4 linked regions of the Homo sapiens genome follow. The protein of the gene in region 4 purifies or fractionates together with the protein of the main gene of each other region. This does not show direct contact. Each region holds a gene or a part of one and is shown on either strand. Other genes may lie near its edges.

Region 1 (3,886 bases), on a different chromosome or scaffold from region 4:
GTAGGCATGGACAGCTGGCAGAAGCTGGAAGAAATGTAATGGTACCTGCAGCAGCTCCCTCATTCTCACAGGCCCAACAGGTAACTAACAGGATAAAAAATAGAAAAGAAACATGGGAACTGAAAATTCTAATTCTTTTGCTTGTCTTATTGTGGGATAAAGCTTGTCCATTTCATAATCTATTATGAGGAATCATTAAAGAAAGTCATGATATATAGCTTTCAAATAAAAACTTGGTGTGGTTTTTATCAGACTTAAGAAGTTAACAAATTTCTAAATTTTTCTTTCAAGTTTAATGAACTAACATCATGATGTGTTAGGCCTGCCCAGTATGTATTTCTAGCAGTTTAGATACTCCTAATTAGTGATTTTCTCTTTGGGGCTAAAAACTTCCTAGGATCTTTAGCCAGATTTTATCGACCACTCCCCTTTTCTAATAATCCTGGTACGATATAGCGCCAAACCCTTCTCGAGGCCTCTGCTTTCTCTTTTGCTCTTCTTTACCTCAGCTAGTCCAGATTGCATGACTCATTCTTATGTACGAGTTTCTGCTTCTTTCTAGCCCAGTCTTTAATGTTTCCCCATCACCCCTTCCTTTTTCTTTCATCCATTTTGTTGTTCTAAACTATTTTAAATGGATGAATCTCATACATCTCTTGGTTAAATAAGCAGTTTTATAGTCATCAAGGAGTTACGGGACTGCATAGTTATATCAACTCTTCCCTTTCAGTAAAAGGATAAAACAATTATAAAAGCATTCTATGTATACGTGGAATCATTTCAAGTGCTTGCATGTTAAAGCAATATAATAAAGAATAAAATATTTAATTCTGTGTTTTTATACTAGGTCATTTGTGGTCAGAATTGTACCTTTGTCATCCAGGCCAATGGCACAGTGTTGGCTTGTGGGGAAGGAAGTTATGGCAGATTAGGACAAGGAAATTCAGATGACCTTCATGTGCTGACAGTTATTTCAGCCTTACAAGGTAAAATTGTCCTTAATAAAAAGATGGTTAGAACCTAAGGCCTAATGTAGGTTTGGTCGTACAAACCTTTGCCCTTCTCAAACCTTTGCTAGATAAAATCATATCAGGTTTTCACTTACATTTAAATCCTTATTTAGGCATGTGTGCAGCCTTAATTTCCATATTTTAAGCTATATTGCAGGTTACTTATAGCAATGCTAGAATTCAGTGAAATATAAATAACACTTTTTGAGACCCACTGAAGATTGTAAACAAATGCTTAAAAATTGCAAAAGTGTAAGTAGGCAGATGTTAATAGCAGTAGCAATCATGCATGTATTTCATTAAAATTAAAAATCAGTTTATATGGAAATCTGCAAATGTGCTAAAGACTTTAAAGGACATCTTCATCAGAGTTCTTTGTGACTTGGAGAGAGAACACCTTTGGAGAAACCACTGTACAAGCCCCCGGCTTGCTCATTAACTGAACTCATAATGACTCTGAAGCCTACAAAGAGAGCACCGACGGTTTTTTTAGGTAAAAGCATACAAGTAACTATGAGTTCAAAACAAGTTCCTAGAAGCTCAGGTTCTTTTCATTGTGATCTGAGTGTGAAGAGCACAGCAGTAAAGATGAGAATGTGTGCTGGGTTCCTATGGGTTCTACTGGTCCTTGGCTCTGGGACATTGCACAAGCTTCGAGACCTCTTTGTGACTCAGTTTTCCCACTTGTAAAAATGGGATGTTAGTATCTGTTTCATAGGTGCTATGTGAAAGTAGAAAATGAGATAATCCATGTAAAGCATTTATAGGAGTGGCTAGAGCATAGCCAGTCATTAATGACTGTAACTATTGCTGTCATCCTCGTTTTCCTTGTCATCACCATTATTTTAGGTGACTATTCGCAGTTTTGCTAGGTTATGGCTACAAATTCAATTTAAAACTAAAGAAATTAGGCCGGTTACTGTGGCTCATGCCTGTAAACCCAGCGCTTTGGGAGGCCGAGGTGGGCGGATCACTTGAGGTCAGGAGTTCATGACCAGCCTGGCCAGCATGGTAAAACCCTGTCTCTGTTAAAAATACAAAAATTAGCCAGATATGGTGGCACATGCCTGTAATCCCAGCTACTCAGGAGGCTGAGGCAAGAGAATCACTTGAACCGGGGAGGTGGAGGTTGCAGTGAGCCGAGATCACACCACTGCACTCCAGCCTGGATGACAGAGTGAGACTCCATCTAAAAAAAAAAAAAAAACTAATGAAATTATTCTTATTTTCATAGTACCAATTCGGTGGTTTTTGATTGAGGGTATTCAGTAGCAGCTGCAAGTAAAGAGGAGAGTTTTAACATCCAGTGACTCCTGTTGGGTTTCTGTTCTGTTCCAGGCTTTGTGGTGACCCAGCTGGTGACTTCCTGTGGTTCTGATGGGCACTCTATGGCCCTAACTGAAAGTGGTGAGGTCTTTAGCTGGGGAGATGGTGACTATGGTAAACTTGGCCATGGGAACAGCGACAGGCAGCGGCGGCCCAGGCAGATCGAGGCCTTACAAGGAGAAGAAGTGGTGCAGGTCAGGCAGGAAATGGATAAGTTTGCCTTTCATTGTAAATATACTAGTTGTTGAATAGGTTTCTTAAAATTAGGTAACAGAAAATATAGTAAAAATATATTACACAGTAATTATAAGAGATCCATTGGTTTTGGATGTTCAGATTCATTCTTGAGCTTGTCAGAAGTTTGAATAGGCTTTGGTGTTAGTATTGGTCTTGTTAGTATTGGTTAGAATGGTCTTTTTCGTGAGCCAGCTGGTTGGCCCAGACTAGGGTGCTGCACGCCCTTGGAAGGAATATTGTGTGGTTTAACTTCTGCCACACAGTTCTTAATACACAGATAAAAGGAAAACTTTGCTTTTAACCTATCATTTATGTTACAAAAGCTAAGTTAACATGCATTTTCTGGAAAATAGTGTTCTAAAATCATATTGTAAGATTGTATAGCACCTTATAGTTTACAAACAATTTCCCCATTTATTATCTCATTTAGTCTAGGTCATGTGTACACAGCTGAAGAGTAGCAGTAGTTACTCCAGGGTATGCTGTTCAGCTTGGGCTTCCTGAGGCTGTTGAGACAGATCAGACTTGGGAGAGCAGGAGAGCAACTTGGGCAGATAAATGTACCAGTTGGCCAGATGCAGTGGCTTATGCCTGTAATCCTAACACTTTGGGAGGCCAAGGCAAGAGGATTGCTTGAGGCCAGGAGTTTGAGACCAGCCTAGACAACATAGCAAGACCCTGTCTCTACAAAAAATAGAAATAAATAGCCAGGTGTGGTAGCACATGCCTGTAGTCCCAGCTACTTGGGAGGCTGAGGTGGGAGGATTGCTTGAGCCCAGGAGTTTGGGGCTGCAGTGAGCTGTGATCACACCACTGCACTCCAGCCTAGGTGACAGAGCAAGACACTGTCTCTTTAAAATTTAAAAAAAAATTAAAAAAAAAAATTTTTAAAAGCATTGGTCTTTGAAGATCCAGTTTTCAGTGAAGTTTATGTAAAGTTTATTGCTATATTAATACCAAAAATGGCAGATTTACTTTTTTCTTAGTTTCCCTTCTTAAAAATTTTCTTTCTCCTTGGTTCTGTCTTAGATGTCTTGTGGCTTCAAGCACTCAGCAGTGGTCACTTCAGATGGCAAACTGTTCACCTTTGGGAATGGTGACTATGGTCGTCTGGGTCTTGGAAATACCTCTAACAAAAAACTTCCAGAGAGAGTGACTGCACTGGAGGGATATCAGATTGGACAGGCATGGAATAAATCAATAAGATATTCTAGCTGATCATTGTTTCTCATTTCTTCTGTGTTCGCTTAGACACCCTCAGGAAGATCAGGATCACCAGTTGTACCTAACCTCATGTACATTTTGCTATGGTC
Region 2 (3,886 bases), on a different chromosome or scaffold from region 4:
GCATGGCACGTTTTGGGAATGATCCTTTAGCACCTAGCCTACAGTCTGAACCAGCTGGGACCTTGGTACTCATTGCCTGCAAGCTGCCCCCTCTCTGCCCCCGAAAAGGGACCCCTTTCATAGCAACCTGGACGGGTGTGTAATTAGCCTGTAATGGCATCAGCGGGTTTGCCGTGTTATGAGTCTGCTCATTCTGCTGTTCTTCAGACTGAGCTTGGGAACTGGGCCTCGAGCCAGCCTGCTTGTGAGCAAGTTCTAGTTCCACCATTCTCAAGCCAGCTGACTTTGGTCAACCTACTTGACCACAGTGTCTCAGTCGCCTCACCCATAAAACCAGCTCACCTGCTCAGTGCTCAATAAGTGTTGTAATTGGCAGTGTTACTGTTTTCTATGGTTGTAGTTCAAGATGTTTATTCTAGCCTCTGTAATGTCTTTGTTTTTTTTTTTTTGAGACGGAGTCTCACTCTGTCGCCCAGGCTGGAATGCAGTGGCACAATACCGGCTCACTGCAACCTCCACCTCCCAGTTTTAAGCGATTCTCCTGCCTCAGCCTCCCGATTAGCTGGGATTACAGGCACCTGCCCCCATGTCTGGCTAATTTCTGTATTTTTAGTAGAGACGGGGGTTTCACCATGTTAGCTGAGTGTGGTGAAGCGCGCCTGTAGTTCCAGCTACTCGGGAGGCTGAGGCAGGAGAATCGCTTGAACCTGGGCGACAGGTTGCAGTGAGCCGAGATCGCACCACTGCACTCCAGCCTGGCAACAGCGAGACACCGTCTCAAAAAAAAAAAAAAAAAGAGAAAATATCAGAGTACATTGTAACTGATGAGAAAAAGTATTGCATTGTTTCTTGGAACTTTGATACCAATTATGTGTATGCTAGGTCATGATGCAAAATGTATTTTACTGGATCAGCCAATAAAAGTTGAGAAGCACTTGTTCTGAGGTTTATTGACAAACTAGAGGGATCCCAAAGGTGACAATCAGGATGGGAATGAGACTGAGACCATAGCAAATGGAGAGCTGGTGGAAAGAATGGAGAAGGGTTTGGCAGGAACTCCGAGGACCTGATCGCTGTTATCAGTGATCTGCAGGTTGTCTCTGGGCAGAAGGAGTAGATGTGTTCTGAATGGCCCCAGGGATGGTAACTTTGGGGAGGCAGGTTTTCAGTTCACTAGAGGAAGAGAGTTACTGCTGTCAGAACTGTCCAGAGGAGATGAGCTGGGAAGCATCACTGATGTGTGTAACAGAAAGTGGCTGAGCGCTCTCAGAGACACTGGAGAATGGATTCAGGCTGTACAGAGGCACCTTTTTTTTTTTAAGATGGAGTCTTGCTCTGTTGCCCAGGCTGCAGTGCAGTGGTGATTTCAGCTCACTGCAACCTTTGCCTCCCAGGTTCAAGGAATTCTCCTGCCTCAGCCTCCTGAGTAGCTGGGACTACAGGTGCCCCTCACTACGCCAGGCTAATTTTTTTGTTTTTAGTAGAGATGGGGTTTCATCATGTTACCCAGGCTGGTCTTGAGCTCCTGGGCTCAAGCAATCCTACTGCCTTGGGCTCCCGAAGTGCTGGGATTACAGGCGTAAGCCAACGCATCTGGCACAAAGGCACATATTTTAAGAGATTTGTAGGTCCCACACATAAGAGAGCTTATGCAGATCTGGGGTGATCAGCGCCCTCCACCCTTAATAGTCTCCAGTGGCCCCATGGTGCCCTTACTGTAATATCTGAGCTCTTCATCCTGGGTCTGCCAGGCTCTTTTTATTCTGACCTCTAGCCCTGTCTTCATCACCTGCCCTGTTCCTTTCCAGCCACACCAGGCAGGTCATAGTTCTCACTATCTGCCATACAGTCTTTATGTATGCTGACAGTCTGTCTCCTCTACCTGAGATTGCCTCTCCCTCGCCATATACTTTCAAACTCCTAGTTACCCATTAAAGCACAGTTTAAGGGTTGTTTTTTTCTGGGCCATTTCCCCTAACGCCCCTCCCTGTCTCGGACTTCTCATCCCTGGAGTGTCTGTTGGCCCATGGTATAGTGGTTAATTGTGGCATCTGGAATCAGTCCAGGATTCAAATTCAAGCTCCATCGTGTACTAACCATATGCCTTAAAAAAAATAACCTCTCTGTTCGTCACCAGCAAAAAGGTAGTACCTACCTTTAGAGTTGTTGTGGAAAATATAAGTTGATCCATGTGAAGGGCTTAGAACTCTGCCTGGTGCTCACTAACATTGGCTGTTGTAAATAGTTTATACTCTTAGTTCTCGTATCGTAATTGTCACACCTATTACATTGCTGCTGTTGGTTTACAGATCTGTCTTCTAGGCTGTGAGGTTTTTGAAGGGAAAGGACTGTGTGCCCTATTCATCTTTGTATCCACAGAGCCAAACACAGGATCAGGTATTTATATAATAATTATATATTATATAAATATATATATATAAATATATATAAATATATATATATTTTTTCTTTTTGAGACAGGGTCTTCATCTACCACCCAGGCTAGAGTGCAGTAGTGTGATCACAGCTCACTGCAGCCTTGACCTCCTAGGTTCAAGCGGTCCTCCCACCTCAGCCTCCTGGGTAGCAAACCTGAACATTTCTTTTCTTAAGACAGTCAGTTTTTGAGTGTTAGGAAATTACATAATTATTTGGTGAAGCTGTTCACAAAGCTGTGGTAATTTTTTTCTTAGCCAAAATTATTTGTTTTTGTTTTATTCGAAAATCCCTTTTATCATATTCATTAACTATTGATGAATCAATAGAATCTATTAAAAATAGCAAAAATGGCCTGGCACAGTGGCTTATGCCGATAAATCCAGCAGTCTGGGAGGCCAAGGCAGGAGGATTGCTTGACCCCAGGAGTTTGAGACCAGTCTGGGTAACATAGTGAGACTTTGTTTCTACAAAAAAATAAAAAACTAGCTGAGCATGTCCCAGCCACTCAGGAGGCTGAGGTGGGAGGACCGCTTGAACCTAGGAGGTCAAGGCTGCAGTGAGCTGTGATCACGCTACTGCACTCTAGCCTGGGTGGTAGATGAAGACCCTGTCTCAAAAAGAAAAAAAAAAAAGATAGCAAAAATGTCAGTATTTTTATAGCCTTGGTTATATAGAATTTTTATTAGCAATACACAGCAGGAGTTGTGTGGGAAGTTGGAGGTGCAGGGAGTGCTTGATTTGTGGAAGTTTTGGTGGAAGTGGGACTTGAGTGCTACCTTGAGATTCAGAGGGAGTGAGTCTCACTTCTAGAGTTGATAGGAGTTCACCTGGACAAAAGGAGCGGAAAGCAGCTTTTATAGATGGAGGAAAGTAATGGAGCTAAGAGGTTTTAAGCATTTGGTCTTCAGATGGTAAGGAACCCGAGGGGTTATCTGGTCAAAGGAAGGGGAAGGGAGTTGTGGTGAAGAACATGAACCCTGAAGCCTTGGATGCAAACACTAGCTGTGTGACCTCAGGCAAGGTACCTGACCTCTCTGTACAACTATAAGACGGGGAGGTTAATAGTACTGTTACTGTTATGAGGAATAAATGACATTATAGTATATAAAATGCTCTGCTCGGTGCCTGGCATTTAACGAGTGCCCAAATATTGATTCATAGTTTCCAAGTCTGTGTGTCGTTCCCAACTGAATGAATGATAGCTGTGCTAATCTCCTCAGACCTTGAGTCTTACAAATATCATTATTTTCTCAGTATGCTATAATGTGAACAATTTGGGAAGTAGCTATTATCTGGTAGTGTAGCGTTCCCACCGCAGGGCCTCAGGGAAGATGAGGCTCTGCTCTGTGCCACCTCCTTCTTCCCCCACCTGCTCCACTTTTTTTTTTGAGATGGAGTCTCGCTCTGTCGCCCAGGCTGGACTGCAGTGGCGTGATCTCAGCTCACT
Region 3 (3,886 bases), on a different chromosome or scaffold from region 4:
CAAATCATCTATCAGATAAAAAAACTTACATAAGGAATAAAAAACTATTACAATTCAATAACAAAGACACATTATCCAATTAAAAAATGGGCAAAGGATCAAGGTATTTCTTCAAAGTAGATATACAAATGGCCCATAAGCACAAGAAAAGATGCTCAACATAATTTATATTTCAGAGAAATATAAATCAAAACCACCTGAGATACTACTTTACACCTACTAGGATGGCTGAAATAAAAAGGACAAAAAGTGTGGGCTAGGTAAGAAATTATAGCACGAAGCCAGGCGTGGTGGCTCATGTCTGTAATCTCAGCACTCTGGGAGGCCCGCAAGTGGATCACCTAAGATTAGGAGTTCAAGACCAGCCTGGCCAACATGGTGAAACCCTGTCTCTATTAAAAATACAAAAAAAATTTTCTGGGCATGGTGGCGGGCACCTGTAATCCCAGCTATTCAGGAGGCTGAGGCAGGAGAATCGCTTGAACCCAGGAGGTGGAGGTTGCAGTGAGCTGAGATGGCGCCATTGCACTCCAGCCTAGGCGACAAGAGTGAAACTCTTGTCTCAAAAAAAAAAAAAAAAAAAATTATAGCATGAAACATTTATATATTTTCTTACAATGTCTTCTAATCAACTGTAGAAACAATCTGCCTTTTTTTTTTTTTGAGATAGCGTCTTGCTTTGTTGGCCAGGCCGGAATGTAGTGGCACAATCAGGGTTCACTGCACACTTGACCTCCTGGGCTCAAGTGATCCTCCCATCTCAGCCTCCCAAGTAGCTAGGGCTACAGATGCATGTGCGCCACCACATCCAGCTAATTTATTGTATTTTTCGGGGGTGGATGCAGAGACAGGGTTTTTGCCATGTTGCCCAGGCTCATCTCAAACTCCTGGGCTCAAGTGATCTGACCATCTTAAGCCTCCCAAAGGGCTGGGATTACAGGCGTTAGCCACCATAACCAGCCAACAATCTGTTTTCTGGTCACTACAAAAGCTATTATTGCTGGGCATGGTGGCTCACGTCTGTAATCCCAGCACTTTGGGAGGCGAAGGCAGGTGGATAACTTGAGGTCAAGACCAGCCTGGCCAACATAGTGAAACTTCATCTCTACTAAAAATACAAAAAAATTAGCTGGGCAAGGTGGCACACACCTGTAGTCTCAGCTACTCAAGAGGCTGAGGCACGAGAATTGCTTGAAGCCAGGAGGCAGATGTTGCAGTGAGCCGAAATCCGGCCACTGCATTCCAGCGTGGGCGACAGAGTGAGACTCTGTCTTAAAAAAATAAAAAATAAAATAAAATAAAGCTATTATTTGTGTGTTAATAGCACGAACAAAAGACAGAGCATATTTCTTCTTTACTGAAGCACTCTTCTATTTCATTCCTTGTCAGTTGTGTATATTTCTGAATGGTTTTTTTAAACAAGTAAACTATGATTAAGATGAACAGACAGAATTACTTAGTACGTAAAAAGTAAGGCCGGGCGCGGTGGCTTACGCCTGTAATCCCAGCACTTTGGAGGCCGAGGCAGGTGTATCATTAGGTTAGGAGTTCAAGACCAGCCTGGTTAACATGGTGAAACCCTATCTCTACTAAAGATACAAAAAATCAGCCGGGCATGGTGGTGCACGCCTGTAATCCCAGCTCCTTGGGAGGCTGAGGCAGGAGAATCGCTTGAACCTGGGGGGTGGAGGTTGCAGCGAGCTGAGATCACGACATTGCACTCCAGCCTAGGCGACAGGGTAAGACTCCTCAAAAAAAAAAAAAAAAAAAAAAAAAAAGCCAGGCACAGTGGCTCACGCCTATAATCCCAGCACTTTGGGCGGCTGAGTCGGGCAGATTGACTGAGGTCAGGAGTTCGAGACCAGTCTGGCCAACGTGGTGAAACCCTGTCTCTACTAAAAATACAAAAAAATTAGCCAGGCGTGGTGGTGTGCACCTGTAATCCCAGCTACTCGGGTGGCTGAGGCAGGGGAATTGCTTGAACCAGGGAGGTGGAGGTTGCAGTGAGCCAAGATCGCGCCATTGCACTCCAGCCTGGGCAACAAGAGCGAAACTCCGTCTCAAAAAAAAGTAAGATTTATTTCATGTTTAATGAATTTGGGGCTTATGGTATGCTGCTGGGGAGTTTTAGAACACTTTGCCTTTACTTCTTCAACGTACATAAAATTCTAAATGATGTAATTCATTAAATTTTTAATTACTTACCAAAATCTACCCTTGTTAATATGCACTGCATTGGGTGGTCAGTTGTATGCCTTGTTGTTGTTGCACCACTTTCATAACAAGATGCACAAAGATCGTAATCGTAGCAAATTAAACACTTATATCTGCGACCTCGAAAATTTCCTTTTAAACATGCATCACAGCTGACACCTATAAAAAAAAGAAATATCTTTAGTTACCAGTTGTAAAGGCCACTCTTGATTTCATTTTTATGAATGTTTCAGGTGCTCATTTAACCTCATATGTCCTTTCCAAAATGACTAGAAATGACTTAGTAAAATGATACGGGAAGTTTTAGCCATGTGCTGGATTCATTACTCTGATTTATACTCCACATGAAAATAATTTAAAATGACTGATACAGGCTGGGTGCAGTGGCTCACGCCTGTAATCTGAGCACTTTGCGGGGGTCGAGGCGGGTGGATCACTTGAGGTCAGTAGTCCAAGACCAGCCTGGTCAACATGTTGAAACCCCGTCTCTACTAAAAATGCAAAAATTAGCTGGGCGTGGTGGCTGGCACCTGTAATCCCAACTACTTGGGAGGCTGAGGCATGAGAATTGCTTAAACCCAGGAGGTAGGGTTGCAGTGAGCTGAGATCGCGCCACTGCACTCCAGCCTCACAACAGAGTGAGGCTTTGTCTCAAAAAAAAAAAAAAAAAAAAAAAAAAAAGCCTTGATAAGCCAGCAAGAAGGTAAAAACCAAGACGAAGAGGAACTGGTGACTGGAAGCACTAAAGAAGGCTTTTCACCATGAGGGTATTTGCCCAAGCAGGTAAAAATCTAAGCTTAAGGTCCACAGCATTATTGGACAAAGGCCTAGTGAAGGTGGGATAATTAACAGAAGATTCCTCATAAAACCAAGACCCTAATATACTCTCAATGCATGGGTAGGCTAGAAATCCTCCCTAGGGGATTACAAAAATTACCCCAGTGAAAGCCCCCTGCCCTAGGGGCACAAAATAACACAAAAAGCCATAACCACAAACCAGTCCTCATGGGTTTATAGCCCAAATTCTATCAAATGGTTCCAAAGACCTTGGGTCAAGAATTTTAAGTGGTCTTAAATTAGAATTGATACCAAGCATCTGGCATATATAAACATCCAAAGAATAAGTTCATAATTTAAACCATAAAATACACACAAAAAAACAAAGCACCATCAGAAAGAACTAGCAGGAGCAGCAGAATCAGTCATGAGTTCATATCAGAATTGGGGCATCAAATAATTCTTGACCTGTTAAAAGAAATAACTGGGTGTGGTGGCTAACACCTATAATCCCAAGCACTTTGGCAAGGCGAGGCAGGGGGATGGCTTGAGGCCAGGAGTTCAAGACCAGCCTGGGCAACATAGAGAGATCCTGTCTACAAAAAAATTTAAAAATTAGCTGGGCATTGTGGCCTGTGCCTGTAGCCTTAGCTACTTGGAAGGTTGAGGTGGGAGGAATGCTTGAGCCCAGGAGCTCGAAGCTGCAGTGACCATGATCAAACTACTGCACTCCAGCTTGGGAACAGAACAAGACCCTGTCTGGAAAAAATAAAAATAATAATAATAATAATAATAATAATAATAATAATAAAGGAAAGAAAGAAGCTTGAACAGGGCTGGGTGCCATAGCTCACACCTGTAATTCCAACACTTTGGGAGGCTAAGACAAGAGGGC
Region 4 (4,359 bases):
CTTGCTCTGGTGCTCAGGCTGGAGTGCAGTGGCACAATCACGGCTCACTGAAACCTCCACCTCCAGGAGTTCAAGACCAGCCTGGGCAACATGGTGAAACCCATCTCTACAAAAACTAGACAGCTGTGGTCTCAGCTACCCAGGAGACTGAGGTGGGAGGGTCACTTGAGCCTAGGAGGTAGAGGTTGCAGTGAGCTGTGACTGCACCACTGCACTCCAGCCTAGGTGACAGAGTGAGACCCTGTCTCAAAAAAAAGGGGGGGGGGATACCAGTCTTAACTGGATGAGGTACAATGTGACTTCATTTTACCTTAATCACCCTTTAAAGACCCTGTCTCCAAAGACAGTCACCTTATGAGATACTGAGTGTTAGGACTTAAACATATGCGTTTGGTTGCGGGGGGACATGATTCAGTCATATCAAGGTGGGGAATGGAGTGGTGTAACTGCTGATGGGTGTGCGTCTCCTTTTTGGGGTGGTTAAAATGTTCTGGAATTAGTGGCAATTAATGTGCATCTCTGTGAATATACTAAAAACCACTGAATTGCCCAGCCAGAAAGGATAAACTTTTGCCCTGGGGCAGGAAGAAGGCTGGCATGCAGAGAGAGGAGAAAGGGGGGCTGGATGAGCTGGCCTGCTAGCGGGGGCCCCAATACTACATAAGACCTTGCCCTTCTCCACAGTATCTGGTGTTAAATCTCATTATGAGGACCCTTTCAGCCCGGGGTTGGGATTGGAAGTGAGACATTGAAACTTCAAGGGCTGGGTTCTGGCCCGGGTGGGGATTTGCCATGGAGCAAAATAGCCTCTTGCAGCACATGCGGGGTTTCCTGTGCCGGGCACTGTCCTAAGTCCTTCTCAACTCTTTCGTCATTGAGTTCTCATAGCAGTCCAGTGAGCCAGGTACCATTCCTCTCTTCAGTCCACGGTGCCAGGTCACTTGGCTAGGGTCCCACTGAGAGTTCGAAGGAAGCCAGGCTAGAGCTCAGGCCTCTCACCAGCTGGAGGTCTTTCCCAGACTCTCTAAGGTGAGAGTTGGTGAATGGTGTCAGCCTGGGCCTGGATGAGTGACCCACGGTGCTCAGTGAATTTCAGGAACAGAGCCAGGGGATGCTGCGGTCAGGGGTGTCTTGATGGGGAAGAAGCAGGGCTGGGCGCTCACCTGGCTTCCCCGGACCTGCAGGTCCAGCCTCGCTCTCCTTCCCCCGAGCACCTCTAGCCCAAGGCCTGCCCACTTGCTGGAGCTGGCCCCTTGGCAAGGCTGCTGGGAGGGCCCGTGCTGCCAGGGCGGTCAGGGTCAGTGTCAGAGGTGCCTAAGGGACGCCCAAGGGGGTGCCCAGGTGGCAAGGTGCCTGTATGCTCAGGGAAGCCACGTCCCAGCTCGCGGGTGGGTGCAGCAGAGGCCCACGTGACCTTGCTGCTGACATTCCTCAGAGGCCATGTGGCCCCAACTGGCAGCGACAGCTGCAGACGGGCTGAACCAGCTTTGTTCCCAGGGTGGCGCCTGCTCTCCATCCAGGCCCCATTCCGGCTCCCACCCGACGCTGCTTTTGTTCCCACGTTTCGGGGGGCAGCTGGCACTGTGATTCCTGCCCCATGAGTGCCTAGAGGCACGGAGCCACCAGGGATCACCCCACGTGGGACACAGGGCTTGGGGAGGATGGGGCAGGACCAGACCAAGCAGCAGATCGAGAAGGGGCTCCAGCTGTACCAGTCCAACCAGACAGAGAAGGCATTGCAGGTGTGGACAAAGGTGCTGGAGAAGAGCTCGGACCTCATGGGGCGCTTCCGCGTGCTGGGCTGCCTGGTCACAGCCCACTCGGAGATGGGCCGCTACAAGGAGATGCTGAAGGTGGGTGTACCCGGCCTGGGGGCGTTCGAGGGTCAGGCTGGGGCCGGATGTCTCCCAGGCTCCCCAGTCCCCTCTCGGCCTCCTCGGGCTCCCCTGTGTCCCACAGGCTGGCAGCCAGGGCCCGAGGCTCTGAATTTATATCTAAGGCCCTGGGTCTTAGATACTGAGTCTTGGCATCAGATTCAGGCCTGTGGCCTTGAACTGTGGTGCCCGAGTCTCTGAGACTGAGGTTCTCCAGCCTCAGGGTCGAGGGTTTGTGGGTCTCAAGCCCATTGTAGGTTTCAGCCTTCCTGTCTGGTGTTCTGTGTCTGAGCCTGGCGGGGTGTGGGCTCCAGGGTTGCGGCTGGGGGTGGGTGGGTGGTGGAGACTCCAGATCTGAGGCTTGGGATAGAAGGTGAAGGCTGCAAGCCTGAGCTTGGGAGGTGAGGCTGGGGTGTAGGGAAGGTAGCTGAGGCTGGCGGGTAGAAGCTCTGGGTCTGAAAAGAAGCTTTGGGATCTGCTGCTTTGGGTGTGAGGCTGGGGGGTGGGTGTGGGGCCTCCAGGTCTGAGCCTGCAGTGCAGGCTGGGGTCCAAGGCTCAGAGTCCAGGCTGAGCACCACCTGCCCACCGTCGCTGTGTGCAGTTCGCTGTGGTCCAGATCGACACGGCCCGGGAGCTGGAGGATGCCGACTTCCTCCTGGAGAGCTACCTGAACCTGGCACGCAGCAACGAGAAGCTGTGCGAGTTTCACAAGACCATCTCCTACTGCAAGACCTGCCTTGGGCTGCCTGGTACCAGGGCAGGTGCCCAGCTCGGAGGCCAGGTCAGCCTGAGCATGGGCAATGCCTTCCTGGGCCTCAGCGTCTTCCAGAAGGCCCTGGAGAGCTTCGAGAAGGCCCTGCGCTATGCCCACAACAATGATGACGCCATGCTCGAGTGCCGCGTGTGCTGCAGCCTGGGCAGCTTCTATGCCCAGGTCAAGGTGGGCCTGCACCCCAGGGGGACAGCAGTGGAGGGTTTTGGGGCTCCCCTCTCATGAGGCACACACCCTGTGGCACTACCTCATTCAGCCCTCCTTTTAGGGAGGGCTGAGGAGAGTGAGAATCAGAGAGCAAAAAGGCTTATCCAGGAAGGTAACAACTTGGCCAGGAAGCCAGCAAGGGCAGAGCCAGGATTCAAACCTTGATCTGTGTGACTTCCTGGAGGAATAATGGGAGGCTCCTCTGTGAGGACAGGCCAGCGGCCTGCACTGCCATGTTTGCTGTGTGGTCTTGGGCAAGTCACCTATCCTCTCTGAACCTTGGGAGAGATCTGTAAAATGAAGGAGAATAGGACTCACCTTACAGTGGGGTTGTATGGAGTCAGTCATCAAATATTTATTGACCAGCTACTGTATCCCAAGACTGTTGACCCAGGGTGTAGCAGTGAGAAAAACAGCCAAGTCCCCGTCCTCACGAGGGTTGCATTCTAGTTGGAGAAGAAAGACGATCAACACAGTCAGGAAGTCAAGTGGTTAGGAGAAAGCGAAGCGGGGCAAAGGGCTGGCAGCACTGGGCGTGGGGGTGTCATAATTTCAAATATAGTGGTCGGAGGGCCTCGCAGAGGTGATGTTTGATGGCTTGAAGAAGAGAGGGTGTGCCATGCAAAAATCTGGTGAGAGAGCATTCTAGGCAAAAATGGGCGAGCCCCTAAAGCCAAGCTGGACCCTGGGGGAGCATCCTGGAATGTTTCCTGGAATGTTCCAGGAAGGACAGAGGCCAGCATGGCTGCCAGGCGTGTCTCAGGTGTGTGCGGAGGTAGGGAGGTGAGAGGAGGAGGGCCAACTGTGAAGGAACTGATAGGATCAGCCACAGCAGGTTCTGATCCTGGGTATTTTTTGGCGGGGGCAGGGGCGGAGTTTTGCTCTTGTCACCCAGGCTGGAGTGCAGTGGTGCCATCTCGGCTCACTGCAACCTCCGCCTCCTGGGTTCAAGCGATTCTCCTGCCCCAGCCTCCCAAGTAGCTGGGACTACAGGCGTATACCACCACGCCCGGCTAATTTTTGTGTTTTTAGTAGAAATGGGGTTTCACCATGTTGGCCAGGCTGGTCTTGAACTCCTGACCTCAGGGATCCGCCCGTCTTGGCCTCCCAAAGTGCTGGGATTACAGGCGTGAGCCACCGCACCCGGCCAACCCTGGGTATTTTTGTTCCCTTTCCCCTCAGGTATCTGTGCTGTGCTTGGTCCATGGGGGATTTAATGCCTGGCCCCAGTAGATGCTTAATAAATCTTGGAGTTAGTGAGTGGATAAATGCTGATGGATCCAAGGTGGGATGGGAGGAAACGAGTCACCAAGGATGACAGCCAGGACTTTGTTTTTAGGAAGCAGATGTAAGGGGGAGCCATTCAGTGAGATGAGATAGGACTGGGGCAGGACAGGGGTTTTTAAAAACCTTTTTAATTCTGAAGAAAAGTAAGCTAGGCCTGGTGGCTCACACTTGTAATCCCAGCACTTTGAGAAGCTGAGGGGTGAGGATCGCTCAAGACCA

Evidence for each region.
Region 1: the proteins of RAPSN (region 4) and HERC1 purify together in Homo sapiens (affinity purification with mass spectrometry; 2 studies listed by BioGRID and IntAct, with this or other methods). This does not show direct contact.
Region 2: the proteins of RAPSN (region 4) and ZZEF1 purify together in Homo sapiens (affinity purification with mass spectrometry; one large-scale study listed by BioGRID and IntAct). This does not show direct contact.
Region 3: the proteins of RAPSN (region 4) and KCMF1 purify together in Homo sapiens (affinity purification with mass spectrometry; one large-scale study listed by BioGRID and IntAct). This does not show direct contact.

The regions. Positions count from the first base shown.
Region 1 is NC_000015.10:63,634,605-63,638,490, reverse strand, and holds part of HERC1 (probable E3 ubiquitin-protein ligase HERC1), read left to right. Parts: coding exon 1-80; intron 81-847; coding exon 848-986; intron 987-2,348; coding exon 2,349-2,530; intron 2,531-3,602; coding exon 3,603-3,758; intron 3,759-3,886. UniProt on the Homo sapiens protein: Involved in membrane trafficking via some guanine nucleotide exchange factor (GEF) activity and its ability to bind clathrin. Acts as a GEF for Arf and Rab, by exchanging bound GDP for free GTP.
Region 2 is NC_000017.11:4,132,907-4,136,792, reverse strand, and holds part of ZZEF1 (zinc finger ZZ-type and EF-hand domain-containing protein 1), read left to right. Parts: intron 1-3,886. UniProt on the Homo sapiens protein: Histone H3 reader which may act as a transcriptional coactivator for KLF6 and KLF9 transcription factors.
Region 3 is NC_000002.12:85,026,376-85,030,261, reverse strand, and holds part of KCMF1 (E3 ubiquitin-protein ligase KCMF1), read right to left. Parts: intron 2,374-3,886; coding exon 2,206-2,373; intron 1-2,205. UniProt on the Homo sapiens protein: E3 ubiquitin-protein ligase which accepts ubiquitin from an E2 ubiquitin-conjugating enzyme and then transfers it to targeted substrates, promoting their degradation by the proteasome.
Region 4 is NC_000011.10:47,446,267-47,450,625, reverse strand, and holds the start of RAPSN (43 kDa receptor-associated protein of the synapse), read left to right. Parts: upstream 1-1,489; 5' UTR 1,490-1,661; coding exon 1,662-1,853; intron 1,854-2,475; coding exon 2,476-2,814; intron 2,815-3,188; exon of another isoform or gene 3,189-3,299; intron 3,300-4,359. UniProt on the Homo sapiens protein: Postsynaptic protein required for clustering of nicotinic acetylcholine receptors (nAChRs) at the neuromuscular junction. It may link the receptor to the underlying postsynaptic cytoskeleton, possibly by direct association with actin or spectrin.